Regions from separate parts of the Homo sapiens genome. Here all the other regions are reported to be linked to region 2. Evidence: microRNA targets listed by miRTarBase, many of them from high-throughput screens and not tested one by one. Region 2 holds a microRNA gene; each other region holds the end of a gene's coding sequence.

The links. The annotated mature microRNA hsa-miR-1303 reads UUUAGAGACGGGGUCUUGCUCU and lies in region 2 at 3,594-3,615, opposite strand. An mRNA with a match to its seed (bases 2 to 7 or 8) in the 3' UTR can be bound and repressed. Matches are read on the target gene's strand: a 7mer-m8 pairs with bases 2 to 8, a 7mer-A1 pairs with bases 2 to 7 and ends in A, and an 8mer does both.
Region 1: the mRNA of USP54 is a reported target of hsa-miR-1303. Seed matches in the 3' UTR shown: 7mer-A1 at 3,218-3,224.
Region 3: miRTarBase lists RBM18 as a target of hsa-miR-1303. Seed matches in the 3' UTR shown: 7mer-A1 at 1,915-1,921.
Region 4: miRTarBase lists CCN1 as a target of hsa-miR-1303. Seed matches in the 3' UTR shown: 7mer-A1 at 6,975-6,981.

The regions. Positions count from the first base shown.
Region 1 is chr10:73,493,308-73,501,384 of GRCh38, reverse strand. USP54 (ubiquitin specific peptidase 54) reads left to right here. Exons shown (of 24, transcript NM_001391956.1): 23 at 547-730; 24 at 2,197-3,847. The coding sequence ends at 2,756. It overlaps PPP3CB (protein phosphatase 3 catalytic subunit beta), which reads left to right and starts at 5,361. Exons shown (of 14, transcript NM_021132.4): 1 at 5,361-5,580. The coding sequence starts at 5,496. PPP3CB-AS1 (PPP3CB antisense RNA 1) reads right to left here and starts at 5,633. Exons shown (of 5, transcript NR_132104.1): 1 at 5,568-5,633; 2 at 4,902-5,243; 3 at 1,698-1,790. RefSeq lists enhancers at 5,155-5,344, 5,835-6,294 and a silencer at 5,425-5,774.
Region 2 is chr5:154,681,365-154,689,441 of GRCh38, reverse strand. MIR1303 (microRNA 1303) reads right to left here and starts at 3,666; the gene lies at 3,581-3,666. It also overlaps a transcript of LARP1 not described here. RefSeq lists silencers at 6,174-6,653, 6,694-6,893.
Region 3 is chr9:122,235,798-122,243,874 of GRCh38, forward strand. It overlaps RBM18 (RNA binding motif protein 18), which reads right to left. Exons shown (of 6, transcript NM_033117.4): 6 at 1,825-6,246. The coding sequence ends at 6,087. Among named protein-coding and RNA genes, the nearest start is that of LHX6, 11 kb to the left of the region's middle. RefSeq lists a silencer at 1,539-1,739.
Region 4 is chr1:85,582,429-85,590,505 of GRCh38, reverse strand. It overlaps CCN1 (cellular communication network factor 1), which reads right to left. Exons shown (of 5, transcript NM_001554.5): 4 at 7,882-8,077; 5 at 6,556-7,766. The coding sequence ends at 7,464. Among named protein-coding and RNA genes, the nearest start is that of CCN1, 5.7 kb to the right of the region's middle.

The DNA.
Region 1 (8,077 bases), not on the chromosome of region 2:
GATAACTAATAGGGAGTAGAGCAGGACATTAGCATCAGTAAATACAAACTTGACAGGCAAAAGAGGAAGCTGTGGAATGTGTAGCAGTGACAGGAGAGAAGATGGGGTAGAGTTCTTGATTCTACATTTAAACATATATAGTTTCATTCCCAGTACTTAGAATAAGTGAAGGATTTTTTTTTCTCATTCTCTCAGGCTTTCTGAATTTCTCATATTTCGTTTTTATTTTTAAATTTCTATCTCAATCTCTCTAATTCTACTGTTAGCATTAAGGAGTTTGCTAAAGACCTGAATGATAGGGTTGGGAAGGTGAGGGATATGAGGAAGACTGGTTAAGGGATAAGGATCTGAAGTTTGCAGTTTCTTAGAGGGCTAGCAGGGAGAGCAACTGAGTAAATTGGGTCCTGTTCCAGAACAAGGCATGTAGGCATGTTTGTGCTCTGGTTCCCTCCATTTCCCTTTGCTTGCCTCACTGTGTTTACCCAACTACATCCTGCTTTGTGTTAATCCTCATCTCTATGTTTTTTTGTCTTGTCTCATTATAAGGATTCATCAAACGTGAGGAAGCCTTTGGAAACCGGGCACCGTTGTTCCAGCTCCTCTTCCCTCCCTGTCATCCATGACCCTTCTGTGTTTCTCCTCGGTCCCCAACTCTACCTTCCCCAACCACAGTTCCTGTCCCCAGATGTCCTGATGCCCACCATGGCAGGGGAGCCCAATAGACTCCCAGGTAACTCCCCCAAATCTAATATTATATGCCAGAATTTGGTACCTTTTCAGGGGCCTCCAAGGGTCAAATCAGTATACCTATGGGGAGGGGGGTATCCCAAGGTGGAGTGGTGTGAAGATATGAATTACTGCTTCAAAGTCGTGCATTTATCTAGATAAATATTAAATCATTTGTTGGGCACCATGATTCTTAGACCAAGGGTTTAGACCAGCACCCCTAGAGTCTGTCTACTTACGAAAATGACCTGCTTCAGTCATGACAGAATAAGCTTTTAACTGACAAAGGGGAGTTAATACCCAGTCTTTGGGACATCCCCAGAACAGAAATGGTCATCTCTCCTTCTATCCTCTGAGCTAGTTTTCTCCCCTTCTATCCTCTGAGTCTCAGCTGAGGGATGGTCTAGGAAGATAAGGAATGAGTGGGAGAATTGGAAAGACCCTTTACATGGAGTACCCACACCATGTGTACAGACCCAGACAATTGTGGGGAAGGTGGGCAATATCATTTTGGCTTTCTTTGACCTTCCGAGTGAGATGTTCTCTTTTTTCCCCTCATGCACTGGATGTACAAGCTTGAGGCAGTGGTTCTCAATGGATAAAGGGGATGTACCACCGGTATCTAGTGGGTAGAGGCCAGGGATGTCCTCAACAGCACAGCCATTATTGTCACTTGCTCAGTTGTTGTTGTAAACCCTCAGAGTCAGCTGAACTATTTTAGGCCAAACATACTGTTTTTGCAAAGTATTTTTCATTAATAAATCACACAATGCACAGGGCAGTCTCTCCCCAACCCCAACAAAGAATTATCAGCCCAAGATACCAAGAGTGCCAAAGTTGAATAAATGTATAAGAAAAGGCATTCCACATTAGATCTCAGAGATCAAACAAAGGCAGCTTAACTGAAGTGAAGGTAACATTTTAAGAAAAGTTGGAGAAACAAAAAAAAAGCAAGGCACAGCGTCTCACACCTGTAATTCCAGCACTTTGGGAGGCCAAGATGGGAGGATGACTTGAGTCCAGCAGTTCGAGACCAGCCTGGGCAACACAGTGAGATCCCGTCTCTATTTTTTTTAAAAAGAAAAGCTGCGTGAGGTTTTGGTATGGTGGCTCTAGGAGTATAGTCATCACAAAGGGAGTATACGTTTGCCATATATTGCTATATATTAGGGAGCCCTTCTTTTGTAGGTGTGTGTATAGTGGATGAGAGATTATAGTGGAGGGAGGTAGAGGTATGGCAACATCCATGAGACTGTTTCATTTGCCCAGGTTGGAGGTATGAGATTTGATTTTGATGTATATTAAGAATTTTAAGAAATGGAATCAAAAGCACAGCTTGATTCATTCTTTCCCTTGTATGTATGCTCTTGGAGGAGTAGGGAATTGGGCTACACAGCTAGGCATGGCTCTCTGGGAAGGAGAATGGTTTTCTGAAGATGCTCAGTCTTTGGGTTTCTTTTCTTTCCCCAGGAACTTCAAGGAGTGTCCAGCAGTTTCTGGCTATGTGTGACAGGGGTGAAACTTCCCAAGGGGCCAAGTACACAGGAAGGACTTTGAACTACCAGAGCCTCCCCCATCGCTCCAGAACAGACAACTCCTGGGCACCCTGGTCAGAGACCAACCAGCATATTGGGACCAGATTCCTGACTACTCCAGGGTGCAATCCTCAACTAACCTACACTGCCACACTACCAGAAAGAAGCAAGGGCCTTCAGGTTCCTCACACTCAGTCCTGGAGTGATCTTTTCCATTCACCCTCCCACCCTCCCATTGTTCATCCTGTGTACCCACCATCTAGCAGTCTTCATGTACCCCTGAGGTCAGCTTGGAATTCAGATCCTGTTCCAGGGTCCCGAACCCCTGGTCCTCGAAGAGTAGATATGCCCCCAGATGATGACTGGAGGCAAAGCAGTTATGCCTCCCACTCTGGACACAGGAGAACAGTGGGAGAGGGGTTTCTGTTTGTTCTATCAGATGCTCCCAGAAGAGAGCAGATCAGGGCTAGAGTCCTGCAGCACAGTCAATGGTAAAGGTTATTCCTTTCCTTTCCTGGAGCTACACCTTTCTTTGTAAAACTGTACTGTGGGCCGGGCGCGGTGGCTCACACCTGTAATCCCAGCACTTTGGGAGGCTGAGGCGGGTGGATCACGAGGTCAGGAGATTGAGACCATCCTGGCCAACATGGTGAAACCCCGTCTCTACCAAAATACAAAAAATTAGCCAGGCGTGACGGTGCGTGCCTGTAGTCCCAACTACTCGGAAGGCTGAGGCAGGAGAATTGCTTGAACCCGGGAGGCAGAGGTTGCAGTGAGCCGAGATCGCACCACTGCACTCCAGCTTGGCAATAGAGTGAGACTCCATCTCAAAAAACAAAACAAAACAACAACAAAATAAACTACTGTGGCAGCGTTGGTACCCTGCATCACTGCCATGGTTGTGCTATTCTCATCTCAACATAGAATTGGTGGGTTCTCCTAAGGGTGTCAGGAACCTCTAAAAAGATGTGATTCTTTGGGAGGGGATATTTGAAATTCCAACTTCCATTCCCCCTAGCAAAAGGAAGCAGCTGCTGTTTAAGGGTTTTATCTGAGCCACTTTAAAGATGAATCCATGGTATTACTCTGGATACTAGCCATTCCTTAGGATTTTAAGGTCACATTTTATTCCTGGATGCTTTATGTCCCCACCTCCACCTGAGCCCTCATCCTCTGTTCCCTACTATACTCCCAACTTCTACTCTTTGTTTTATCCACCTATCCCTATTACCTGACCCTTTGTCTTCCCTGTCTCCCATCCTTGGGGGGACATGTAGCCCTGTGGTCATGGTTCTGATGACATCATCAGGGCAGCCCCCCTGCCCAGGTATTATGGCCTGTCAGCATTCCCTGTGCCCTCCAAACCTTAGGCCTAGAATGCGGAGCTGCCAACATAACATTCACCCTTTTGAACAGATGGAGTCAGGCACACTAACACAGCCTTCTGTCCTCAATAACACAGCCATTATTGCCACTTGCTCAGTCGTCAATGTAAACCCTCAGAGTCAGCTGAACTATTTTAGGCCAAACATACTGTTTTTGTAAAGTATTTTTCATTAATAAATCTATAAGACAGTTCTATTTAATTCCTTGTCATTCTTCCCTTTGTATGCTCTTGCTTTCTTTGTATTGGGGCTGGAAGTCTGGATAAATATATGAAGTGGCTTTTGACTGAGTGGAAGTGAGGAGCCAGAGACGAGTTGAAGGATATACAATCAAGGTGGGAATCAATGGGTCCTAAAATAGGGTGCCTTTCCTTTCTAGTATTGCTGCTAGGATGTTTCCCATCCCTTTCCTGACAGAGCATTCAGTACTCAGTACATTATACACTTCCTTCCTCCCCTCCTTAGGAAGATTTTCTGGGGATTCAAGCTCTTCTTACAGACTCACTCCTGATCAATGTACTCCAGGTGCCTTCCCTCTATCTTATAAGTTTGTGACGTGCCTCCTGTCCCTTCCTTCCTCTCCTTCCGTGGGGGCCTCTCCCTTTCCCTTCCCCTGTGGTGTTATGGCCCTTCCATGCCAGAAAGATCCATTTTCACCTGTGCCTCACTCCCGAGACTCTTCCCTCTAAAAAATAGCTTGTGGGTTCCCTTTTTGGAAAAAATCCATTGTTGGGTCTTTCCCTTCCTCTTTTCCTGGGGTCTCAGGATAGAAATTGACACAAAGAAGAGGTAGAAAGGTACTCCTTGGACCTTCGGACTACTACTTACTTACCACCATGCATTATGAACAGATTCTGAGCACATGTATTATTGAGCAGGAGGATGGGCAGGAATTGGTTGTTCCATCCCACTTGGATCCTGCACCATCAAGATATATAGAGCTTAGTGGATATGCTGGTCCCTGTCCATGATTCAACATATCTCCTGGTGTCGTGGACACACTCATCTAATAATTTTTGATGAACAGTCAGTTCTTGCCCCTCTACCCCCTTTCCCATGAGTGTCAGTCACCGTGGTCTCTATAAAGGTTCCATAAGTCACCTGGGCCCAGATTCTGTGCATGTGCAGAAATAAGGAATTAATTTCCAATTCCCTATTTACTCCTCTGCCTTCCAGGAGGAGGTTGTATCCTTTTCAGGTGAATTCTTCAGATTCTTTGCACATCTCTTGGTGTCATCCCCTTTATTCCCCTTACCTGTTTTGACAAACTATGGCGCCTAAATTGCTCTAGCTGCAGTCTTATTCTGTGCTTTCAGACTCTTGACAATTCCAGACTCTAAACACAAAGGCCAGAATTCTCTTTCAAACTCCATTTTGGATGGTCCCTTCTCCACTCTAGAACCTACAATGCTTCCTCTATTCTCTGGTCCCCTACCAACCCTTCAGTATTCAGATCTGGTAGCTAAATCGTTATACATTTCTCTATTAGTAGGAGATCCTGAGGTTTAATCACGTCTTCTCAGTTTACTGGGAATGCCATGAGAGCGGGTGTGTTTCCTCGCAGTCGTTCGATCGCAGCACCTCCTCATTCTTCATTCTGCATGCAAAGAATTTTAACCTGATCCCTTGGCCTCGTCCTGTTTCTCTCCTAGCTTCAGTAATTTTGCCCAAGTCCCTAGAGCCTACCCCGCCCCCACCCCCGCACGCGCAGTGCATGCCGGTCTTAGCCCCTCTGTAGGGAAAGAGGGTCCGCCATGTTCCCCGGCGGCGCCGCCGCTTGGCTCTGGTAGCCGCCGCCCCCGCCCCCAACCCCGCCCGGCCCAGAGCCTAGCCGAGCCCCGGGCCCAGCATGGCCGCCCCGGAGCCGGCCCGGGCTGCACCGCCCCCACCCCCGCCCCCGCCGCCCCCTCCCGGGGCTGACCGCGTCGTCAAAGGTGAGAGGTGGACGAAACCCTGGGGGCCTGGCCTGAAGAGCTAGCTGTGTGTGAGGGCGGGCGGGAGACCGTCCCCTCGGGAGTGGGCCCGGAAGGGCGGGCGAGTGACTGGCTGCCTCCCTTGGGGAGTGGCCCCTGGGCGGGCCCCTGCTGGGCAGGGCTGAGTCGGTGGCAGTGGTTCCGCGGTCTCCCGGTTGCTTTCAGGCCGGGGCGGAGGTTTTGCTTCCGTGGCTTCCTAGCCCAAGGGGTGAGGCTGTTAGCTGCAGTGAGCCCGTTTTCTCTTCACTCGGCCTGTCAAAGCGGCGCAGGGGCCGCGATTAGCTTCCTGCCCCGCGACAGCTGCACTTCTGGCTTGCCGGGGCGAACCGAGGGGCTCGGAGACCTTCAGCCACGCGAGGCCCGCCAGTGAGCAGTCAGAAATCACCTCGGCTTTGGCCCACGCCTGCTCCCCGGTGACAGTCGTCCGCCCTATCCGCGTCTAGCTGGCGACAACCGCAGGGGTTCACTTTTGGCCGTCAGGTGCCACCCGGAGCAGAAATTAGGGGAACCTTGTGGGATTGGATCACGGTGAAGGGTCGGGGCAGGAATTGGAAGGCCAGCCTTTATAGTGCAGAAAGGGAGAAAAAGCAGCATAAACGAAAAAAAAAATTCTTGTGGATAGCAAGTATTTACTTAGAAAACCATCAACACTTTGGTCAAAAGGAGTTACCCCTCCCTTACAAACACACACCCACACATTCATCCTAGACGAAAAAGTTAAATGTTTCTCAGCCAGGGCAGAATTTATGGATGTTTACCCACAACAGGTCAGCAGATTAATTTAAAATAGAGAAATTGAGGGCTAATTGAGAGTTGCTTAAGATTCCAAGCTTCCTGGGAGAGCCTACCAACCTCAAACACTGCTGTGGAGGTGAAAAACAATTGAAATGATTCTCTTTACCATGTAGCTTGATTGATAAATTGAAATCGTAGAATGAACTTTTCCTTATTTGTATTGTATTTATTTTTAAAATATAGGTACTTTTGTTTTCATTCAGCTTCTCAAATACACTGGCACAGTATTTAAACACCGTTAGCCTACTTTTTGAAATCTGACTCATATGTTTCCATTAAAATATTTAAAAACAAGGAAACCTTTTTTCTTTTTTTTTTTTAATTAAAAATTTTCAACCTGAGCCTTCTTCGGTTCTTAAAAGAATAATACTAATTTGGCCTGGCGTGGTGGCTCACATCTGTAATCCCAGCACTTTCGGATGCTGAGGCAGGCGGATCGCTTGAACTCAGGAGTTGGAGACCAGCCTGGGCAACATGGCGAAACCTTTTCTCTACCAAAAATACAAAAAATAAAAATTAGCCGGGCATGGTGGCGCGCCCCTGTAGTCCCAGCGGATCGGGAGGCTGAGGCACGAGAATCACTGGAGCCCGAGAGGCAGAAGTTGCAGTGAGCCGAGATTTGCGCCAGTGTGCTCCAACCTGGACGACAGAGCCAGACCCTGTCTCCAAAAACAAAAACAAAAACAAAAACAAAACACTGATTTGCACCTAGGCTTAAGTTAGTAGTATATCCAGTTGGGCCAGGCATTGGAATGAGCTGAATAACGAGTTTATGGAATCCTTAATACAGAGAAATCTTAAAAAAAAAATAGTAATGCAGACATTCATTCTATCAAGAAATCCTGGAGTTTTGTGGGGGTGGGAACGGGACATTGGCTACCTCTTCATTTTCTGACTGTATTTCTGTGTTGTGTGTTCATTTCCCTGGGCACTTTTCACCAGACTGTTAGATGGGGTAACCAATCACATTCCTGAACAATGAGTTTATGCTATCCTTACGTTTGTGAATCTTCTTATTCCTTGTCATATATATGGTAATGTTTTTTCTGTACTGCTTTAATGCAGTGAAAATAAGATTCCAAACATAAGGCAGATTCCTTAGGGGTGAGTTGTGAGTCCAAGGCAGTCATATTTGCAGGTTATTGGTGTGGAATAAAAGCCATTTGATTTAGATAAATAGGAAAGGAGCTTGTTAATATAGAAAATTATAGTTAAATAAAGCTTATGGTTATCATATTTCTGGTGCTTCATTGTGCCCTCTTCATAGAGACAACTTTCATTTCTTTATGGAATTTGTTAACCAGTTGGAATTCCTGTATGGATTATATGTTTTAAAATGGTGTGTAACAGACTAATTTGCACTGCTCATGGAGTCTCCTGCATTTACTGGGAAATTCACCTTTCTTACAGATCCAGAAATTCACTTTTAAATTTCATCTTCAGGATTCTTCCTTGTCTTTTATTCAGTAATTATACTATAATGTGATACCTGATATTAGAGAATACTGGTTGCCTGATGATAAATGATGTGAGTTCAGCTTAAGTTTAACTTGTTAAAATCCAAATTTCTTTTAAGTCCACAATGTGGTGGTAGTTTTGTATCGATACATTTTCATAGTAGTGATATTATGGAGACTGTCTGTTGGCATTGAATGCAAGTAGT
Region 2 (8,077 bases):
TTTCACACTGTCGTTTGGGCTGGAGTGCAATGGCACGATCTTGGCTCACTGCAACCTCTGCTCCTGGGTTCAAGCAATTCTCCTGCCTCAGCCTCCCAAGTAGCTGGGATTACAAGTGCCGCCACCACGCCTGGCTAATTTTTTGTATTTTTGGTAGAGACGGGGTTTCACTATATTGGCCAGGCTGGTCTCAAACTCCTGACCTCATGATCCACCCGCCTAGGCCTCCCAGAGTGCTGGGATTACAGGCGTGAGCCACCGCACCCAGCCAATTTTTGTATTTTTAGTAGACATGGGGTTTTGCCATGTTGGCGAGGCTGGTCTCGAACTCCTGACCTCAGGTGATCCACCCACCTCGGCCTCCCAAAGCGCTAGGATTACAGATGTGAGCCACTGCGCCCGGCGCAAAATGTTTTCTCAAAACATATTTAATAACTTGGAAAAATGGTGTCAATATATAGTATTTTTCTTTTCTGAATTTAATTTTTTATGTAAAAATTTTATAAAAGGAATGCATTAATACATTCTCACAAAGATTCACCATATAATGTTAAGTGAAAAAGGGCAAATCAAGGGCAAAAGAAATATGCTTCCAATGTTGTTTTATTTCACTTTTGAACCAGGGTCTCATTCTGTCACCCAGGCTGGAATGAAGTGATGCATTCATGGCTCACTGCAGCCTCAACCTTCCAGACTCAAGAGATCCTCCTACCTCAGCCTTCCAAGTAGCTAGGACTACAGGCATGTGCCACTAGCCCTAGCTAATTTTTTTTTTTTTTTTTTTTTTTGAGATGGAGTCTTCCTCTGCCGCCCAGGCTGGAGTGCAGGGGTGTGATCTTGGCTCACTGCAACCTCTGCCTCCTGGGTTCAAGTGATTCTCCTCCTCAGCCTCCCAAGTAGCTAGGATGACCGGCATCCACCACCACACCTGGATAATTTTTGTATTTTTAGCCAGAAAGAGACAGGGTTTCACCATGTTGGCCAGACTGGTTTCAAACTCTTGGCCTCACGTGATCTGCCCACTCAGCCTCCCCAAGTGCAGGCTTGACCCACCTCGCCTGGCCTGCCCAGCTAATTTTTTTTTTAAGATGTGAACTTTTTCATTCTTCAAAAAGAGAATGTATTTTTACATAAATCTATAACAGAATTCAAATGTAGAAAAAATAAACTATATTCAGGGATAGAGTGCTCAGCACAGCACACCCCCTCCCCGGATGAGACTGCAGGAGCCTCGCCACCCCCAGGACACCCAACATCAGGGCAGCCACAGGCTGGCACATAGAGCTCCCTGTGTCTGTCACAACAGGCTGCAAATGCAAGGGGCCCAGACCCGAAGCATCAAAGACAAAAACCAACCCATTTCACTGTGGCAACTCACTTCTTGGCCTAGGTCACTCATTTGTACACCTACTCAGAAAGGGAGGCACAGGGAAACTGAGGGACATGCATCTCCAGATGCCTCGGATAATCCCCTACTCACTTCTGCCACTAGAGGACCCCCAGGAGAGCCCACCTGACAAACCCCAACTTCTTCCCTGGGCCAGTGCAACCAAAAACCTGCAGGATTCACCCAGGACTCCAGGCCCTGACAAGAGGCAGAGCTGGCTGCAGCTCGACTAATTAAAAAATTTTTTTTGTTGAGACAGGTTCTCTCGTGTTATCCTGGCTGGTCTTGAACTCCTAGCCTCAAACTTTCCTGCCACCTTCGCCTTCCAAAGCTCTGGCATGAGTGCCCAGCCTCCCAACTTATATATAAATACAGGCCGGGCGCAGTGGCTCACGCCTGTAATCCCAGCACTTTGGGAGGCCGATGCAGGCAGATCACGAGTTCAGGAGATTGAGATCATCCCGGCTAACACGGTGAAACCCCGTCTCCACTAAAAATACAAAAAATTAGCCGAGTGTGGTGGTGGGTGCCTGTAGTCCCAGCTACTAGGGAGGCTGAGGCAGGAGAATGGTGTGAACCCAGGAGGCGGAGCTTGCAGTGAGCCGAGATCACGCCACTGCACTCCGGCCTAGGTGACAGAGTGAGACTCCGTCTCACAAACACACACACACAACACACAAAAGTATAAATACACTGAAAAAAATAAACATAAGGAAATCCACCAACATGTTAACATGTTACATCTGGGTGGGAAGATTACTACAGATTATTATCTTCATCTTTATTTTTCTATGTTCTCCAATTTTTTTTCAAATGCTGCATTATTTTTATAAACAGAAGCAAGCTACAATATTGTAACAGAAATATTGAAGATTATATTTGAAAATATTCAAGGCTAAACAAAAGCAAGTTAGATATCACCTATGTGTCCGCAATCAGAAACCTTTGAGACTAAAATTTAGCCTTTTGGAAGCACCGTCCATCTTCCCCCAGACCCACCCCTGCCTCTTGGCAAAATCACAGCACCATGCTGTGACTGAGGGGTCGGTCTAAGAGAGACAGAGACTGATTTCTCTCTAGGAAAGGCTCATGCAGAGCTCTCTGCTTCCTTGGTTTCCAGAACTTCACCAGCCTTCTTGGCCTGAAGTTCCTTCTTCTGAAGTCAGGCATGGCTCTGCCAAGGGATACTTGGACAGTGATCCATGGGACTGGAGAAGACCCCTGCAATCCCTGCAGTTACCAGGTTACTTAATTAGCTGGCATTTAAGGGTCTGTAGGATCTGAACCAATCTTCCTTACAACTCCCATGTGTGCCAATCAAACAGTCTGTCGGCCATCTCCAAAGCCAGAAAGGGACAGTAATGAGTGAAGAGAGCTGGGTGTGATGCAATTGGGAAAGGTAAGGACTGTGGCAAACTGGAGTAAGCCCACACCTTCAAAACGAACGGCCACTTCTCAGTGCCAGTCTATTGCTACCTGGTGGGACCTTTCGATTTTTCAAGAGAATTGGAAAATCTGGATCTTTATGTGAAATCTCCTGATTTTAAAATAAATATTGGCAGGTAATTCACAAAACATATTTGGCCACTCTGCTGATCACAATTTGTGACTTGTCTTAGGAACACATTGAACTTTTTTCCCTCTGCACCTTTGCTTTTGCTATTCCCAATGCCAAGAACACTCCCCCACCCATCTAAGTCTAATGAACTCCATCTGTTCCGTCAGACCCAGCCAAAACACCACCTCTTCCGGAGCATCCCCGCAGCCAGAAGTGACATCTCCCTCACTGGGGCTGCACCACACATTTAGCTCTGTGCCTGTCTCATCCTATGCCCACAGTTGTTTCAGTAAGAGTCTTAGCTTTCCTGGTACAGAATGAGCTCCTGAAATATCCAGAAAACATTTGTGGAGCACCTGCTATGGTGCAGGAACCGTACTAAGCACTAGTGATACAGCCTAGAACAAGATGGATATGTCTTTGCCTTGATGCAGTACAGTCTAGTGTAGGGGGCAGATTTTAAATAAATAACTCCCTAGATACCTAATCCCAATTGTGATGAGTTTTATGGGGTTAAGAAAGTTTATAAAAGAGACTTAATCCAGGCAAAGGAGGATTAACCGAATCACGAGGTAGCTTGGGGAAGCATTAGCAGTAGGGCTCCCACTTAGGGCTGTACAGTTTACATGCTGCACAAAGCCTGGCAACAGAGCAAGACCCCGTCTCTAAAATTTAAAAAAAAAAAAATTGTAGAGTTGAGGTCTCGCTATGTTGCCCAGCCTGATCTCAAACTCCCGGCCTCAAGTGTTTCTCCCACTTGGCCTCCCAAAGTGTTGGAATTACAGGTGCGAGCCACTGTGCCCGACCCCTTTTTCTAATCTGCACAAAGGCATCGTATAGACTAGCAGAGGCAGCGTTTAGTTCACCCCTATCCAAAGCTGCTTTAAATAAACTTAGAATCTAAGTAGATACGGTGACTTCCCTATGTACATGCAGCCCAAAGAGATGTTCCCTGCTCCCCACTTTCTACGCTAAACCCTTAGACTTCTGAGATCAGGGAAGGCACCCCAAGGAAGTAACATAGGAGCTGAGACTGAAGGATAAGAAGGGGCCAGCCAGCTTGGAATATGAGGAACAGCATGTGCAAGGCCTCTGAGGGGAGAAGGTACCATGGCCAAAGGACCTAATAGGTGGCCGTTGTGGTGGAAGCATGGACAGAGGTAGGAGAGCATTAAGGGGTAGGCTGGGCAGTGACCACCCTGCATGGCTCAGAAGGCCACATTAAGGAGTGCAATTCTTTTTTTTTTTTTTCTGAGATGTTGTCTCACTCTGTCACCCAGGCTGGAGTGCAGTGGCGCGATCTCAGCTCACTGCAACCTCCACCCTCCGGGTTCAAGTGATTCTCCTGCCTCAGCCTCCTTAGTAGCTGGGATTACAGGTGCGCGTCACCATGCCCAGCTAATTTCTGTATTTTCAGTAGAGACGAAGTTTCACCATGTTGGTCAGGCTGGTGTCGAACTGCTGACCTTGTGATCTGCCCACCTCCACCTCACAAAGTGCTGAGATTACAGGCATGAGCCACCGCGCCCAGCCAAGGGGTACAATTCTTATCCTGAAATACCTTCCATATCCCTTCCATATCCCACTCCCTAACCACGTCATTTCTGGGTTTCACTGCCCATGAGAGAGTGCACAATGGTAGAAACTATCTTTACAGAGGGCCTGCCATGAGGCACAGACTGTGCTGGGGTCATACATTCATTCTGCCTTTTTTATGCTCCTAAGGAAGTATTATTTGATTTCAATGGAACAGATGAAAAAATGGAGGCACAGAGAGGATGAGCAGCTGGCCTAAGGTTAGCTGACTGTTAAGGGGTAGGCTGGGATCCACTGTGAAGTCCACTGTGGGACTTCAAACCCCTTCTCTTGGCCGTCATGCAGCAATGGTACCCATGAATAGACCGGAAGCGCAAGGAGTGCACACCCTTGCTACTCAAAGGCAGGAGGGTCTAGGGGCCTGCAACACTGGCATCACCTGGAAGTTTGTCAGAAATGCAGGATCTTGGGTTCGTTCCATCCAGCCCTACTGAATCAGAATCTACAATTTTTTTGTGTGTGTGTGTGAAAGGGTCTCACTGTGTTGCCCAGGCTAGAGTATAGGGGCACAAACACAGCTTACTATAGTCCCCACCTCCTGAGTTCAAGGGATCCTCCTGCCTAAGCCTCCCAAGTAGCTGGCACAGGCCACCACGCCCAACTAATTTTTAATTTTTTTGTAGAGATAGGGATCTCACCATGTTGCCCAGGCTGGTCTCAAATTTCCTGGGCTCAAGCAATTATCCTGCCTTGGCCTCCCAAAGTGCTGGGATTACAGGTGTGAGCCATCGTGCCACGTCAGAATCTACACTTTACAGGAATCATGTACACATTAGGAGCTGAGAAGCACTAGACTAGAGAATAATCCAAGCAAAGTGGCATATTGCCTTTGTAGCCCTTATGCAACAGTGTCTCATAAGCCAGGTTTCCAATGACCCGAAAACAACTTCTTATAACCAAATATACCAGATTGGCCAACTGTTCCATTCATCTATCCACCCTAGTTTTGTCATCTATTTCCACTCCAAGGGAAAGACTGTGAGAAGCTACCATCAACTCCAAAGACGAGGTGCTGTATGCTCCAAATCATCTCCCATTTGAGGTCTACTCTGATCCCCAGATAATTTTCTGGAACACACTTTTCACAAAAGAATTCCCTATGTTAGCCTGCATACCAAAGGAGTCAGAATGGTTTGGTAGAAAAGATTAGTGGGTGAGGAAAAGCAGGGTTCCCCTTCAGCTTTAAGGCCACATGTGACTTTGGGAAATGCCCTACCCTCACTTCCTAATCCCCATGTAAAATATGAATGGGGTGGACTAGACTAGGAATCATTCCATATGAGGCCTGGCAGGAAACACAAAGGAAGTTCAGTGGCCTAGGTGAAACAGTAGGGAGTAGCGGAGACTGTGGCAAACTAGAGGGCGAGCAGGTAGGGAGGGTGCAATGCCCTGACTACACAAAGGTATCCCCACTCAGAAATAGGCTAGAGTTATCATGGGAAATACGTTGACATATATTCTAATTTTTTGAGTTGGGAATCTGATTTTCCAAGAAATGAGTGATGTTTAAGTATTGGCAACTATTAATAGTTAAAACTTCAGAACAAACAAACACAACACTGTGTGAGCCAAATAAATATCAGGTGCCGGCCAGATCTGTCCGTGGGCCGTCAGTTTGACTTGCCTGGCCCAGATGCCACCCTAATGTTAGGTATTAATTTGCATGTGCGGCTGAGAATGCTGCAAAGCGGCTCCTGTAAGGATGGGGGTTGAGGGGTAAGATCTGTGCCTTTCCGGGGCCCGTCGCCCGTCCCCCACCGCGGCCCGGGCCCCTTTCGGTGCCCCCTCCCCAGGCCTCTCCGGGAAAGGGCCCAGACGGTGGTGCCGGGTCGCACGGCGTCGCTTGCTTCACACCCTCCCTACCTGCTCGCCTGCTCTCCCAGCACGGCCGGCAGCGCCGCAGCAGCGATGACTCAGCCTCTGGCGGCGGAGCTGGAGGGAGGCGGAGGGGGCGAGGGGGAGGACGACTGGCAGGGCGGGGTAAAAGGAGGCGGGTGGAATGGAGGGAGGAGGGGAGAAAGAAAGAGGAAAAGGAGAGAGAAGTGGGATGGGGGAGGAGAAAGAGGAAAGGGGGAGAGGAGACGGGGGAGAGGCGGAGGTGGGAGGGGGCAGTTCGAAGCCCCAGCTCCCGCCTCCTCCCGCGGCCGGCTGAGGTTGGGCTGGGCTGGGGGAGGACAGTGGGGGAACAGCGGAGAGGGTAGGGCAGGGGCGGAGAAAGGAGGGTGGCGTGCTGCGCCCCTTCCCCTCCCCCACTTCGAGAGTCCCGTGGGTACACGTGGTTCATTGCCACACCCACGGACCCACCCCTGCCTCTGTGGGATGGGAGGGGCCGGGGAGGGTGCCCGGGAATGCGGCTTCGGACTCTGAACCTTTAGTGAGCGCCTTCCAGCGGAGGCCTGGGGGACTGGGCAGTCAAAAAGGGACAGAGGGGCCGGGCGCGGTGGCTCACGCCTGCAATCCCAGCACTTTGGGAGGCCGAGGCGGCCGGATCACCTGAGGTCAGGAGTTCAAGACCAGCCTGGCCAACATGGCGAAACCCCGTCTCTACTAAAAATACAAAAATTAGCTGGGCGTGGTGGCGCGCGCCTGAAGTCCCAGCTACTTGGGAGGCTGAGGCAGGAGAATCACTTGAACCTGGGAGGCGGAGGCTACAGTGAGGCAAGATCGTGCCACTGCATTCCAGCCTGGGCAACCCTGTCTCAAAAAAAAAAAGGGGGACAGAGAGAGGTGAGGGCTTGCAGGGGAGAAAGCAAATCCACAAGGCGTATCCGCAAGTGGAAATTTAAAGGGAGAAATGAGCCTACTCGATGCATTTTTGCTAGTCTACACAAGTAGCTATAACACAAGGTTGAATTTGGAAGTCACACCAAGGAAGTTTCCTTAGCAATGTTTTGTAATATAAATGATGAATGAATAAAATGTACTATGGGAGTACATCTGTGTGTATAGAAGAGGACAAATGGAATTTTTTTAAATGTCTTTTTGTATGTCTGTTACATATGTGTGTTTGGGTGAATATATAGGAGTGTATGTGTCATTGAATAATGTGTATATATGTATGCCTTATGTATGTAAGCACATTAATAGCTGTATATGAGGTCGTGTGCCAAGAATACATTTCTGTGTATATGGACAGGTGTGTATCTTTATATGCCTAGGTGTTAACTGTATAAGACCTATGGGCTTTCCTGAGTTTGTTTTAAATATGCATATTTATGTGAATTTATGAGTTTGTGAATGTGACAGCATATCCTTGGGGGGTATGTGTGGGGGTTTTTTGTGTGTGCCAGTATTGTATAAATGTGTATGTGTATACGGGACTCCTGTCTGAGATCGTGTTATGCTTGGATATTTGTGTGTGTGCATGTGTATGGTAATACATTTGTGATCAGTCTGTGACCAGGGCTACAGGGCATCTTGAGGTTGCATGTGTGTGTCTGTGTGTATAATTGAGAATGTATGTCTGTTTTTCAGAGTCTTTATGGATATGATTGTGTCTAGCATCTCTGTAGCCACCCTGTCGATCCATTTGTGAT
Region 3 (8,077 bases), not on the chromosome of region 2:
ACCACGTCTAACCAACTTTACATATTAAGGTTATATATAGAATCATATATATGTAGTATATATGGTATAAATACATACAAATGTATCATATATGATATCATCAGCTATATAACATTTAGGAGACTGGATATAGGGAGTGGGGGAGTGGAAAATGTTCAAGATAACTCTCAGGTTTCTAATAGTTTATTTTATTTTTCCCAGTGACACAGAACATGGGAGCAATTGAGGAAGGGCAAGAGGGATCCATGAGCTCGGTTTTGAGTCAATGTACCAAGGGAATATTCAAGTGGAAGTGCCCAGGAGTGAACGGGACATATGGCTCTGCAGCTCAGAAGAGAGCCTGGATCTAAGAGAAGGAATTTCAGAGATATCAGGGTAGGGATAGCAGCGGAAGCCTTGGAAGTGGAGATTTTACAGCAGCTGGAATTTACCCCATCTATGAGAAGAGAGTTGGCTTGTTTGCTTTCTGGGAGGTAATTTGCCCCTGAAACTCATCTTACTTTTGGTGAGAATCGTTTTTTAAATTATAAAGCACATTATATGTAGTGATAAGTGCTAAAACAGACCCAGGTCGTTAAGACGCAGAAAGGCAATTAACTGCCTTATAGGAATGAGCATGGGTGGGAAAATATCTGTTAGACAAGTGGTGGGGGTGGGCAGAAGGGACTTCCCAGGTAGAAGGCACATCTTGTACAAGGACAGGGGAATCCAGGAGAGTCCATCATGTTTAGGGTGCACAAATAGTTTAGTCTGGTTAGGAGAATGCCTAGTGGGACTGATTTGTAGAAGGCCTCATAAACCTGGCTTATCCTATGGTTCTAGGTATTTGGAAGTATCTTAACTCCTTACTTAGATTAAATCTTAATATCTCTCACTTTGGGGCTTTGTTCTTTGTTCAACGTCCCCCTTAAACCGTTTACGCAGCTTATTAAACATCGTTTGGCCGCTCAGCTCGGGGGGAAATCACCTATGTCACCATGTCCCATTCCCAGCCTGGTTCCCATCCTCTGGTGTCTTGAAGCTGCTGAGTCGTCCCTTTATCACGGTACATCACAGTGCACAGGGCTCCTGCCTCATCATCTTTACACCCTCCACGCATCACACATGGCAAATGCCATCTGTTTCAGGAATGAGTAACCTTCCTTCTGATGAGGTCGCCCACCAGAAAGCTTCTCAAATGGGATAGGCCTGTTTTCAGAAGAGGAACACATAACTTGTTTTTTAAGGTGAAAATTTAAAATTATGCTTCTAGTTTAGAAAAGTCACAGGGCATGTAAAAATTAAATGTCATTCAGCATAATCAGTAATCTTAGCCAAGTTTAAGATTGAATGCAGAGGAAAGAAGACACAGACCTGCGTACTCGGATAAATTCTGACAGATCTGTTTTTTTTGGGTTTTTGTTTTTTTCTTTTTAACCTGGGATTCAAGAGGTCTCTCCAGAGACCACAAGGAAGAGCCTGCTTGAGAATGAAACCAACCCAGAGGAAAACACAATCAAGAGATAGACAGAATCCTAACCATTTCACTGAACACCTGGACTTCTCAGTTACATGAACCAATACATGTTCTACCGCAAGGGAGTTGGAGTAGTGTTTTTGTCACTTGAGCTGGGAGTCCTGACAAATCTGCTTACATAGCTGGGGCTACAAGTCTAAATCTGAAGCCCAAGTTCTTACGGCCTTAGTTTCCTCACAGGGACAATGAGAGGATTTAGCCCACATTGATAGCCTTAAGCAGTACAGTGATGCCACTAGGGCTGGCACAGCCAGTTCTCTATCCCAAAAGATGTGTAAGGGGTCAGAGACATTGACTAAGAAACAATATTCGGTGCACATCATTCTGACATCTGTTGCTTTTATTCTCTGCATTAATACGAGAATTTTAGAAAACACATTTCCAGTCATGGAATATTGTTTAGAGTAGGGTTTGGCAAATTTTTCCTGTAAAGGGACCGATAGTATATATTTCAGGTTTTGTAGGCCACAGTCTTCATTGCCAACTATTCAACTCTTCTATTATATGGGGAAAACAGCCACATGTAAATGCCTGGGCATGGTTGTGTTCTAATAGTTATTAACATACACTGAGATTTGAATTTCGTATCATTTTCATGTCACAATATAGTATATATATTTTGTTTACTTTTTTTCTCAACCACTCGAAAATGAAAAAAAAATCATTCTTAACTTGTAGGCTATACAAAATTAGGAGGCAGAGGCCAGTTTGCTGAACACTGGACTAGATGTTTGCAGGCCTGGGTTCTACCTAAAGCTCTCCCATTAACCAGGTGACCCTGGCCAAATCGCTTTGTCTCTCTGGGTTCCCGTTTTCCCCATCTGGACAATGAGGGGGCTATATGAGATGGTCTCTTAAGGCCCTTTGGCTCTCAAATACCAGAATTCTTGTAGTTTATCCAACAAATATTTATTGAGTATGTATGATGTACAGCCATTGTTTTAAATGCTGAGGGTATAGCAGTGATATACAGTTCCTGCTTACATGAAACTTACATTCCAATAAAAAGAGACAAAAAAAAATTTAGATATAATGTTGGTTAGCGGTAAGTGCTTTTGAGAAAATCGTGAGGAAAGGATTGGAGAGTGACAGGTTGTAATTTTAAGAGGGAGGCCGGGGACTGCCTCTTGATCATTAACATTTGAGCAGAGACATGAGTCAGGTGAGAGAGCGGGCTCTGCGGCTATCTGGAGAAAGAGCGTTCTAAGCTAAGGCAACAGCCAATGTAAATGCCTTGAAGTAGAAGCTCCCTTGTATTCAAAGAATAGCAAGAAGGCCAACGTGGCTGCAGTACACCGCACAAGGGGAGAACAGTAGGCTATAGGGTCAGACACGTAGTGAAGGACAGGTCATTAGGGCCTTACAGATCTTTCAATTTTTTCTAGGCTGTGATGGAAAGCCACAAAGAAGAGAATCACATTTTAAAATAATTTTTTTAAAAATTGCTTTGGCTACTGTGTGGAAAACGGACCCTAAAGAATCAATAGCAGAGGCAGGGAGATAATTAGGAAGGTATTGTAATAGTCCAGGGAAGAGATGATGGTGGCTTTAAGAAAAATGGTGGTAGTGTTGGAGGTGGTGAGATGGCTGGATTCAAGAGGCATTTGGAAGGTAGAGTTGACAGGATTTGTTGAAGAACTAGATAGGAGCTGGAGAGAAAAAGAGAAAACAGGGATAAGCATGCTGGGACTAAATCATATTTTAGGAACAAATGATTACATATAGGAAATGTTTGACATTTAATTTATAAGGCAAGAATTACTCCTGTTCTTTTATGTAGTAGTATAAAAGAATCACAGATATATTTGTTGATTCAGAAACTGTGCATATCTTAATAAACAAGAGACAGAGCTGCAGAATACCTGGTTTCATACAACTTGTGCAACTGATTTTTGACCTGTTTTGTTTTTGTTTTTTTTGAGACGGTGTCTCACTCTGTTGCCCAGGCTGGAGTGCAGTGGCACAATCTCGGCTCACTGGAACCTCTACCTCCTGGGTTCAAGCGATTCTTGTGCCTCAGCTGACATGCTTTGAAAAATCTTTCCTCATGTGATACTCCTCCCCAGTACTAAGATACCAATTATAGAAAATCAACTGGTTAGGATTACATTTTGCATTTGATAAAATAGGAATTGAGATGAAGAAAATAGTTCATACGTCTCTCCTCAGTATTTCCTTCAATTCTTCACTCTTGTATATAAATCAAAATTATAAGTGACATAATTTTAGCAAACCAAAATAACCAGTAAACCAAAGAATAATTTTACTTAAAGTACAGACAACCTCCTAACAAAGAGTTGACCAAGTTAACACCTGAAATTTAAAAACCTTTCATCAGACTGCTTTCAGCATATTTAGGATACATACATTTCTTCTTTTGAAATCTCTACCACGAGAGACTAAACACAGTACGATACTTGCAGAGATTTCCATTAACAACTTCTTTTCAAATAGTGACATTTGCAATGGAAACAGCTGGTCTCTATTCTCATCTCTAACAACAGAGGTAGGCAGGCATAAAGGGTAAAGAGAGTTGCCTCTCAGTTTGACTCTCTAGCCAGAACCCTCTGCAGAGAAGGCACTTAGAAGAAGCACCCCACGTGGACATGCTGGCCAGAGTCCTGAGTGGAAACAAGCCTGTCAGAGAACTGCAGTCTATGCCAGTAAGTGAACGAGAGAAGATATAACCACACGGACACCGTCTTACATTTATTCACACAGAGGGATAAGAATCAGTACAAATAATAAACAGTGCTTTAAATACAAATAAATAGCTCTGGTTTCTAAAGGAAACAACTCTATATATAATTCTAAGTTTTTTCTAAGTTCCTATTAAAAATAGAAGACTATTTTGCACTATGTAAGTTCTAGTCCACCATAATCCTTTGAAGACTTACGGATAAAATGGTGAATTCTATACTCCAAGAAGTCACCAGAAAAATGGGAGATAATGCTCCTACCTCTCTGAACTATCCCCCAAATAGGAGGAGAGTTACTTGCATCATAGACAGACACAGCTAATACATACAGAAAGTATTTGATGTCTAGAGATATTTAAAAAGATTAACCTTGGGAAAAGTAAAAAGAATTTCCTTAAACCAGTTTTATGAATTCTAAAACCTCCCTCTACTGAAGTTTTGATTCAAATGTCTTAAATTCATTTATACTCATGGGAAGATGTTAAGTTCCTATATTGAAAGCTTCCTCTTGCTAACAACGATAGTGATAAACATTCTGTCATCACCAAGAATGGCACCTGGAGTAACAAAGTGATACATACCTGGTAAAGGAGCAAAGGTGCTGCCCAATTAAACAGTATGTCAAACTTGGCATCAAAATGACCAAAATGTGCTGAAGAAACACATCCCTAAATCTGTTGGTTGACTTATCTTTCTCTATTGTTATATTCAGGATGCTTAGAGTGACAAACATATCTAGAGGCAAGTATGTTCTCCAAGTGAAGAATCATTTCCAAGGCATGCAGTCCTTTAAAACTACCTACCACACAGAGTCATTACAGTCTTGGTGCCACAGTGGCATCTGTTCCATTGACTTTCTGTGCCCACTGCATGTCCTCTCCTCGTCCTGCACAAGATAATGCAATCTCTTCCACTTAGACCGCTACACAATTATTAGAAAATTGTATGTTTGATAGTGACCAATATAGCAATGTTTAGGTTTTCAAAGAAATTTTGCTTTTTCTATTTAGACTGACCATGATATAATTCCAAACAGAACATTCTCATGCTATAAAAACAATCCCATGCAATAAATGTAATTTTAAAAGTCCCATGATAATAGCAACATTTGTTATTATAGAAGGCATGGTTATTTAGATTTGAAAAAAATGGTTGCTATAGAATAAAAGTTCAATTTCCAAATAGAACTTGTGTTGTGGTATAAAATGTTAAATTTGATTCTAGTTTTGTCAACACAAACAATTTTAAGATATACACCATGTTTTCCTAGTTGGGATTTTGAAACAATAAGCATAATTCTTAAACAGATTACTACAACATTTGTTCAAAGAATCAGCTCCTTTTTGCCAAGAACTTTCTCTTTTTCAGTCCAGTTGGAGGGATTGCCGTAGTAAATTCTGGAACAACAGTTCTGAACATGATTTAAAATCTGTCTCTCACTTCCCTCCCTGCCTTTTACTTTTTCTTTATGTTGTAAAAGACACACGAGCGTAGAAAAATGCTCAATTTTTTAATAGATGTTAATATTTTTAGTTTCCTGATTTAAATAATATTTTGTGTATTTGCCTTTTGCTCTGGCACACTATAGAATGTTTCTGGAGTTACAAATCCAAACCAACCAGCCAATTAGAGCATCCCAGGGTTCAAATCACAATTTGGGATACAACGCTATTTATTCTGGATGATGCTCAATTCCATACATAGTTTAGGGAAGAAACATCCATAAGAACATCCAAAAACATTATGTTACCAAATGCTAACATGTGATTGTGCTCCGTTGAATAGTACCATTCACATCTACAAAGTACACAGGCAGACGATTTTAGGTGTGGAGACCAATTTGCTTTTGCTGCTACAGTAATTCACAACCATCATCTTCGAGATTTCCATGCTGTTCTAGAATATGGAGTAGTCCTTTTTTTATCTGGTGGCTTAAAGTAGGAATAAACAGGCGCTGCTGGATACTCTGCATCAGGATTTTCCGCCATCATTTTCAGTTTTGCTTCAATGGCTTTTATCTTTGCAGTGACACTGGAAAAATAATAGCAGAGGATCAGAGTGGGCCTAGGTATATTCAGAAAATAGCTGTACAGTTCCTCTCCTTGAGCCTCTTGGGAATATTAGAGACGCAACAAGATACTAAATTACAGACATTTAAACATTTTATATAAAAGCCAGAAATAACTAATTCTCTCATTCTAAGAAACAGATCAAGTCTGAGCCATCTATTAAGTTTTTAACATAAGCCTGGACATTGTTGGGAGTACTTCATATAGTTCTACATTTAATCCTCAGACGCAGACACTGTTAGCACCTTAATGCTTGGCAGAGAGTAGGTACTAAAAATAATTCTTTTAGAATTGAAAACAACATTATAAGATAGGTTATATTCCTTATTTTGCAGATGATGTAACTGAGGCACAGAAAGGTTCATTTGCCCAATGTTACACAGCAAGTAAACGATAGAGCAGAGATTTGAATACAAACTGACTCAAAAGCCCAGGTTTCACCTGAATCACTGAATAAAAATGGAAAAAAAACATTCTGGAAATCCTATACAATCTCTTTTTACTGATGAATGCATGTTAATAAAAACTATCATTTACAAAGTGCTTACAATGAGCCAGGCACAGTGCATTTTACTTATACTGTTTTTTTTTTTTTAGACAGGGTCTTGTTCTGCCACCAAGGCTGTAATACAGTGGTGCCATCATAGCTTACTAAAACCTTGAACTCCTGAGCTCAAGCAACCCTACTGCCTCAGCCTCGTGAGTAGGTAGGGCTACAGGCACACACCACCACATCCATCTGAATTTGTTTTTGTTTTTGTTTTGAGATGGAGTCTCGCTGTGTCGTCAGGCTGGAGTGCAGTGGTGTGATTTCGGCTCACTGCAACCTCCGCCTCCCAGGTTCAAGCAATTCTCTTGCCTCAGCCTCCCAAGTAGCCGGGATTACAGGTAGCAAGCGCCACCACGCCCAGCTAATTTTTGTACTTTTAGTAGAGACAGGGTTTCACCATTTTGGCCAGAATGGTCTCAATCTCTTGACCTCGTGATCCGTCCGCCTTGACCTCCCAAAGTGCTGGGATTACAGGCGTGAGCTACCGCGCCCAGCCCCATCTGATTTTTTTAACTTTTTTTGTAGAGATGGAGTCTCACTATGTTGTCCAGGCTGGTCTTGAACTCCTGGCTTCAAGTAATCCTCCTGCCTCAGCCTCCCTAAATGCTGGGATTACAGGCATGAGCCACTGCACTCGACCTACTTATAATGTTTTTAATCCTTGCAATGGCTCTACATGGGTTATCATGCATGTTTTATAGATACAGAAACAAATGCAGAGGTGGTGATATGATCAAGGTTCACACAGTTAACAAACTGTAGTGAGGATTCAACTCATCACCAAAGCCCTCATTTTTTCTTCTCCATCAAGTTAAGAGCTGAATAGTCCTATATTGTACAGGAAGGGAGAGGAGATCTTAGAGAAGTTGCGAGGAATTTGCTTTTGATTGAGATCATTGCTATCCCTGGATCAGAATGCAGAGCACTCAGGGAGTAGGTATTTTTTGGCCTATGGCTACCTTCATTTTCCATTCTTGATGCGTTAATGGTCTATGGCCAGTGAGAGAAACTTGGAAGGAGTATATACATGGGCTTTTGGAGATCCTCGAAAGGTATACATGGGCGAGAAATTTAAAAACTAAGTTACAAGAAAAAGAACACTGATATATTACCGAGATGCATTCTGGCCCCTCTTCCATTAATGCCACAGCTGGTCACTGATTTTGTATAAGTCACAGGGAAGCAACCTTCTCTCATTAGGCATAGATGTTAATAGAGAGATGTAAGCTGAGGTCCTCTGGAT
Region 4 (8,077 bases), not on the chromosome of region 2:
TCTTTTTTCTTTGTCTTCTCTGACTGTGTATTTTCAAATAGCATATTGTATTAGCCTGTTTTAATGCTGCTGATAAAGACATACCTGAGACTGGGCAATTTGCAAAAGAAAGAGGTTTAATGGACTTACAGTTCCACATGGCTGGGGAGGCCTCAATCATGGTGGAAGGTGAAAGTCATGTCTCAGATGGTGGCAGACAAGAGAAGAGAGTTTGTGCAGGGAAACTCCCATTTTTAAAACCATTAGATCTCATGAAACTTACTATCACAAGAACAGCATGGGAAAGACCCACCCCCTGATTCAGTTAACTCCCACCAAGTCCCTCCCACAACACATGGGAATTATGGGAACTACAAGATGAGATTTGGGTGGGGACACAGACCCAAACCATATCACATATCTTCAAACTCACTAATTCTTTCTTCTGCTTGATCAATTCTGCTATTAAGAGACTCTGACACATTCTTTAGTATACCAATTGCATTTTTCAACTCCAGAACTTCTGCTTGATTCTTTTTAATTATTTCAATCTCTTTGCTAAATTTACTTAATAGAATTCTGAATTTCTTTTTTGTGTTATTTTGAATTTCCTCAAAACAGCTATTTTGAATTTTCTGTCTGAAAGGTCACATATCTCTGTTTCTCCAGCATTGGTCCCTGGTGACTTATTTAGTTTGTTTGGTGAGGTCATATTTTCCTGGATGGTCTTGATGCTTGTGGATGTTCAGCTTTGTCTGAGCATTGAAGAGTTGGGTATTTGTTGTACTCTTCACAGTCTGTGCTTGTTTGCACCTATCCTTCTTGGGAAGGCTTTCCAGGTATTCAAAAGGACTTGGGTGTTGTGATCTAAGCCATATCTGTATTAGGGGGCACCCCAACCCCAAGAATGCTGTGGTTCTTGCAGGCTCATAGAGGTACCACCTTGTTGGTCTTGGATAAGATCCAGATAATTCTCTGGGTTACTAGGCAGAGACTTTTGTTATCTTCCCTTACTTTCTCCCAAACAAATGGAGTCTCTCTCTGTGTGTGCTGAGCCACCTGGGGCTTGGGGGGTAGGGTGACACAAACACCCCTGCAGCCACCACCTCTGGAGCTGTGCCAGGTCAGACTTGAAGACAACACAGCACTGGGTCTCACCCAAGGCCCCCTGTAACCACTACCTAGTACCATCTGTGTTGAGTCAAAGCCCTAGGGCTCTACAATCAGCAGGTGGTAAAGCAGCCAGGTTTGTGTCCTTCCCTTCAGGGCAGCAAGTTCCCCCAGGCCCTGGGAAGGTCCAGAGATGCCATCCAGGATCCAGGGACTCGAGTCAACAACCTTAGAAGTCTATCTGGTGCTTTACACTACAGTGCCTAAGCTAGCACTCAAACCATGAGACACAGTCCTTCCCACTCTTCCATCCCCTTTTCAGAGGAAGAGGAGCCTCACCCTGTAGCCACCACCACCACGGACCCAAGAGGAGTATTGCCAAGCTACCACTGATATTCTTCTCAGGCCTAAGGGCTCTTCAGTCAGCTAGTGGTGAATGGTGCCAGGCCTGGGATTCACCTTTCAGGCCAGTGGGCTCTTCTCTGGCCCAGGGCAGGTCCAGAAGTGCCATTCAAGACCCAAGGCCTGGAATTGGGGCCCCAAGACCCCTCTTGGTATTATACTCCACTGTGGCTGAGCTGGTACCTGTGATGCAATACAAGGTCCCCTTTGCTTTTTCATCTGTTTTTCTCAAGCAGAAGGAGTCTCTCATCATAGTCACAATAGCTGGAAATGTGCTGAGTCTTACCTGAAGTCATCACATCTCAAAGTCTCACCCAAGGCCCACAGCATTCTATCTGGGTATCACTGCTGGTTATTCAGGGCCCGGGGGCTCTTTAGTCAGCAGGTAACAGTTCTTGCCAGCTCCGAGTCCTTATCTTGAAGGTAGCAGGTTCCCTTCTGGCCCAACATGTGTCTAGAAATGTGGTTGGCAAGCTAGAACTTGGAATAGGGGCCTCACAACTGTGACCTGTGCCCTATCCCACTGTGGCTGAGCTGGTATCCAAGATGCAAGACAAAGTCCTCCTTATTCTTCCCTCTCTTCTCCTCAAGTGGGAGGTAGGGGTCTCTTTTGGAGCCGCAAGCTGTGCTGCCTGGGTTTGGGGGAAGGGTGATGCAAGCTCTCCCTTAGCTGCCCCAACTGGTATCTCAGTAAGTCACATGCCCTTAAAATCCACCTGCTCTGAGCCCAGCTCAGTGCCAGGACTTGCAGTCCTTACAGCCGAGACTGCCTTTTAAGTTTATTTACGTCCCCAAGGCACTTCAGCCCATGGTGGTAAGGCTTGCCAGAACTCCAGCTCTTACCACTGGGATGGGTGATTCTCCTCTGGCTAGGACAGGTCTGAATGCTACCTCCATAGGTGGGCATCTCTGCTGTGACAGGGCAGCACTGCGTTCCAGGCAGTCTCCTAGTTGCTGTAGTCTCCCTCTCCCAAGAGCACAGATTCTCTGCACCATGTGGCTGCTGCCAGAGAATGGGGGAGGGGTGGTGGCAGTGATTCAAGACTGTCTTTCCTACACTCTTCAGTGCCTCTTTCAACGATATGAAGTTAGAAACTGGTTGTGAGTGCTCATCTGAATTCTGGTTCTTGTAAAGGTTCTTTTTTGTGTAGGTAGTTGTTAAATTTGGTGTTCCTGCAGTGGGGATGATTGTTGGGGATTTTTATTCCACCTTTTTGCTCTGCCCCTTAAAAAACTTCTTGGTGTAAGGAACTATTAATAATTTAGACTGGGTGGTGAAGAAAGGTTGCTAAGAAGGTAGCATTTGTGCTGAGACCTACATGCCAAGAAGAAGCCTAGGTCAGGGGAAGGGGCATTTGAGGCAGAGGAACGCTAGTGCAAAGGCCCTGCAGGGGAAATTGCTTGGCTTTTTCAAAGAAGAAGAAAAGGCAAGTGGAAGTATAGTGAATGAGGGTGAATGGTAAGAAGTAGGCAGGGTCCAGGACCTGGGTGCCAAGTAAGAAGCTAAATCTCTACTTTGACAGCAGTGGGACACCATTGGAGCCTTTAACCCAAGGGTCCATATAGTCCGATTTACATTTTTAAAGAGTCAGTTTAAAAATGTAAAAGGGGAAGAATGGAAACCAATGATATTTTGGTTATCTATTGCTATGTAACAAACAAACCCAAAACTTATTTCTTTATAATTACCGTATTGGTTTGCCCACTATTTCGTGGGTCAGGAACTATGGGAAGGACTCAGCTGGGCAGCTCATCTCTGATTCACAAGACATCAGCTGGGGTGGCTGAGGCTGGAGGATTCACTTCCAAGATGGTTTCTTCATGGACAGGTGTAATGCCCAAGTGCTCCTGGTCCTTTCTCTTTCTCCACATGGCAACTCATTCTCTAAGGCCTATCCATGTGGCTTCAGCTTCTCACAGTCTGCTGGTCTCAGAGTAGTTGTACTTCTTACATGGAAGCTCATTTCTAAGAGAAAAGATGGAGGAACTCCTAGCCAGTACTGCATGTGGAACTTGTACCACATTGCATTGCTTCCTCCACATTCACAGGTCAAGAGCTCACCCACATCCAAGAGGGTGGAGAAATAGACCCCCCCATTAATGGGGGAGCAACAGAGGCACATTGCAGAAGGGCACATGGAGTGGGAGATATTGCTGCAGCCACCTTTGGAAAATACAATATGCTATAAATGAGGAGGCCATTCTGGTAATTCAGACAAGGGATGATGGTGGTCTCATCTAGAGGTTTGCTCTGGAGATGAGAAAGGGGTAGATTCAGAATATATGAACAGAATATATGGAAACAGCAAAGCAGTAACAAATGCATCTGAGTATTTATTAATTGTAGTTTATAAGATTACATGGATGAATATTGCCCACCACCAATGGAGAAAGTCACAGCTATATCTAATCTATTTGTAGGACAAATGGATCATTGTCATGTTTCAGAATATGCTTTGTTTTAAAGCATCAGTTGTGTAGGGCAAGGAGTTAATGAGGCCTGGATAGGGCTATACAGTGAGGTTAAAGTATGGACCTGTAGACTCTGAGATCCAGGAATTGCTGTGTCCTCTAACCAAGGGTGCTTTAGAAAGTAAAGGGGGGGGAAGGGGTCTAGCCACAATACATTTTCAAACGCTTCATGGAAACAAGTGCATTTGATGACAGAAAGCCTTGAGCAGTTTTCAGTTCACACATGTGGTTACTTGAGGAGATAAAAGTTTTAAGGTATGAGAGCCAATGTACCGAAGTGGGTGTATGAGAAAGGGTTTTTGGGGTGACAAAAATGCTGAAAGCTATTTTCCTACTTTAACATGAGGGAGTGAAACAGAAACTTGCCCAGAGTCACCTAGTGAATTCATGGCAGAGCTGGTGCTAAAAGACATGATTCCATGGGATTCTTTCCACTGTATCACCTGCCATTCTGCCCAGAGCATAGCTTTGCTCTGTACTGTGGTCATACTGAACCACTGCTATTGCTCAACTGACTTTCAAGTAGTGCCAGAAGGCTGCAAGAAGAGGTTGTGAACAAACCAAGTCTGTTCCCTCTGTTGGAAAACATAACTCTAAAATATGCTTTGCTAATTTTGACTCAGTTGCATCTCTTTGTGGAGCAGACAACACATATGTTCATATGAAAAAATAGTCATAGTGAGACTACTTGCTGTGCTGCTCAATGTCCCATAGAGTATTTCTTAAAATTCGTGGAATGCCTAAGATTCTGAGATCACTCTCTCAGTTCTAAAATCTCTACCAAAAAATAGCTCAAGACCACCAGGATCTTTTGGATTGAAAAGCAAGAACAACCCAAGGTCTTTACTGTGCATGGGAAGGTACATATATATTATAATGAATATTTCTATATGTAACTTCTATTTCATATATGCAGATGCATAATTTTTGGTTTGTTTTCTCAATATTTAAAGTGGGCAGAGCTCCATTCTGGATGTAGGTAAAACTTACGTGTTCTAAATATCATAATTTTATTCTCCACTACTTTTAATTTCTTCAGGTTTTTCTATAGCTAAACAAAAGACATAATTTGCTTGTATTCATCTTCTTTATTAATTGAACACACTTATTGTAAATGGAATTGGCACTTTCAATCACCCTCATTATATTTACTAGGATGAAATTAATAACCCAAAGATTCAGTGTTTTCCCATACTAGGTTCTGTTTCACATTTGAGCTTATTTGGACAAATACTACTTCCCTGCACACTGAAAGGATCTGTAAAATATTGCTCCTTGATCTCTGCATAAGAAGCAATTTGTTGGACTCCAGTGTTGGAGAGCAATACTTCAGGGTTGATGCTTGGGAATGTGTAAATCTTGCCTATGGATTTAGATGTCTGTTCAACAAGATTGCACCACAAAAGCCTCACACCTTTATTATGTTTCACACGTTACATTGCACTGACAAGTTTAACTGCATCCACGACTGGGCCAGCTGATGTTTAAATTCTCAAATACCTTAACATTTGAATGTCTCAGGCAAGAAACCTGACTATTCAGAAGGCACAAGCTGTAATATTTCAGGCAAGTCAAAATCAGAAGTGAAGGCTTTTGGCCATAGATTTTACTAGTGCATTTATATTAACCTCTATGCATTTCCATAAGGCTTTAAAACCATTTCTTAGGCAGTATTTTTCTGTGGGTCTTCATTAAAGTATGGATCTTATTTAATCTACTTGGAAAAATCCCTTCAGGATCCCAGGAGCTGTCCTCCTCCATTCCTTTTAAAAGCACTTTCTCTTCTGCCTAAAAACTCAAGTACTCTCTTAACTAAGTGCGGACTGAAATATTTCACTATGGATTTGAACAGGAGCCAACAGTGATGATGAAAGGAAAACTTCTCCCTATAAAAGGTTTATTGTCAGCGCTTTCTAAAGATGAAGATGCTTCTGAAACAGACTACTGACATTTTCACAAACATTGACACAGCCTTCTCAACCTCTCCTAGACCTATGATTTGGGTCCCTTTCTTTTAGGAATGCTCTGGACCTTTGACCTTCTGAATAGCCAACTCTATATAACTGCTCCCTCCCCCATCAATATAACGTATATTATAAAAAGGAAAGGGGGATGGGGTAGCTTGGCCCTCACGCTATTGGAAAAGTAGTTGAAATTCCTTGCATTCCTTTGCATTTAACAGCATGTTTACCTAATCACCGGCTTATTAGGATTAACACAAGTCATGCTTCAAGCTCATTTAGTGAAAACAAACTGACTCCTATAGACTCAGATTTTTCCTCATAACAGCCAAGGGTAAATTTCTAAGTAGTTCTAATTTTTAGGAACGGTATTGGGAAAATATAAAGTTATAAACAAGCAAGTCTTTAGAATACATTAATTATATTCAATCTTGCCCATGGGTCTGGATGTGGGCAGCCTGAGTTATGGACTACCCCTTTTCATTAAAGGGTTTCTCTACTCTACTAAAGTGGCATGCCCACTAACCTGGTGATTAAAATAATAAATTATTATAGCCATCTCACAGAGTGATGGAGACCCTTAGGCTTTATATTCTGATGAACATGAAGCGCTGTTTTCTTAAATCACAAATTTAGCTTCAGAATCTTTATTGTGCTTCATACAATGTCGTGTTCAATACATGTTTTTTAAACATTACTTTATATGCAAAGACTTTTCTCTACTGAAGGTATAAAAGCAATCATTATCTTATTTTAATAGCTTAATTCACTGCTGTATCCCAATAAGTCCTGTTTGAATAATTGAGTACGTGAGCTAGGTTGTTCCTAATGACTTTGGAGCACCTCTAAAAATACCGAATGGCATACACTCAGATATTAGGTAAATATTTCTTTATTAAATGGTTAATTCCATAAATAAAATCTTTTCACTGAATATAAAATTAAAATCATTTACAAATTATTCCAGTATTACATTTCCCCTCCCTCCCCAAAAGCTACATTTTGATAAATAAAACATTCAGTCTTAAAACACCTGATTTCTGTTTGCAGTTTAGAGTGCAGATAGCTGCCTCTCACAGACACTCATGGAGTGTCCCCCTTCAGGAAGGGATGGAATGCCCTCCCATTTACTTTTGTCAAAGGACGAATAAAAGCTTTAAACTGTCCAACTAATCTTATTATCTCTTTTACGACTGTAGAACCCCAAAAGGAAAAAAGCCTAGAGAAAATATGCTTAGCAAATAATTTACAAACAGAAAACAGAAAGTCATCAACTCCACAAGCTCCAAAATGAAGCAGTAACATGTGCTCCAATACTATGAAGCAAAGTATTCTCCAATCGTGGCTGCATTAGTGTCCATCCGCACCAGCACCCTTGGCAGTTTCGAAATACCTTAATGCTCCTCAAGAATGAGCAAGGCTTCCTTTCTACAATGAGTCCCATCACCCACACCACCCCCGCCCATTTTCTCCATGATTCTGATTCTGACACTCTTCTCCCTTGTTTGTCTAGGTGTGCCCTGGAAACCCAGGTAGCATTTAGTCCCTAAATTTGTGAATGTCATTGAACAGCCTGTAGAAGGGAAACGCTGCTTCATTGGCATGCGGGCAGTTGTAGTTGCATTTGCAGGACTGGATCATCATGACGTTCTTGGAAAATGTCTCCCCATCTTCGCAGCGGAACCGCATCTTCACAGTCCTGGTCAGCTGGGGCGTGCAGCATCGGCCGTCCACGCAGGAACCGCAGTACTTGGGCCGGTATTTCTTCACACTCAAACATCCAGCGTAAGTAAACCTGACTGGTTCGGGGGATTTCTTGGTCTTGCTGCATTTCTTGCCCTTCTGTAAGAGAAAGGAGAGAAGGAAAGTTAGGGGTGATATTTCTCTTTCTTCAAAAAGATGTTCACATCCCACCCACCTGCCAGGCAACAGTCTACACGTCCCTGAAGGAACTTACTTTCAGGCTGCTGTACACTGGCTGTCCACAAGGCCGCACCTCACAAATCCGGGTTTCTTTCACAAGGCGGCACTCAGGGTTGTCATTGGTAACTCGTGTGGAGATACCAGTTCCACAGGTCTTTGAGCACTGGGACCATGAAGTTGTTTGAACAATACATTTCTGGCCTTGTAAAGGGTTGTATAGGATGCGAGGC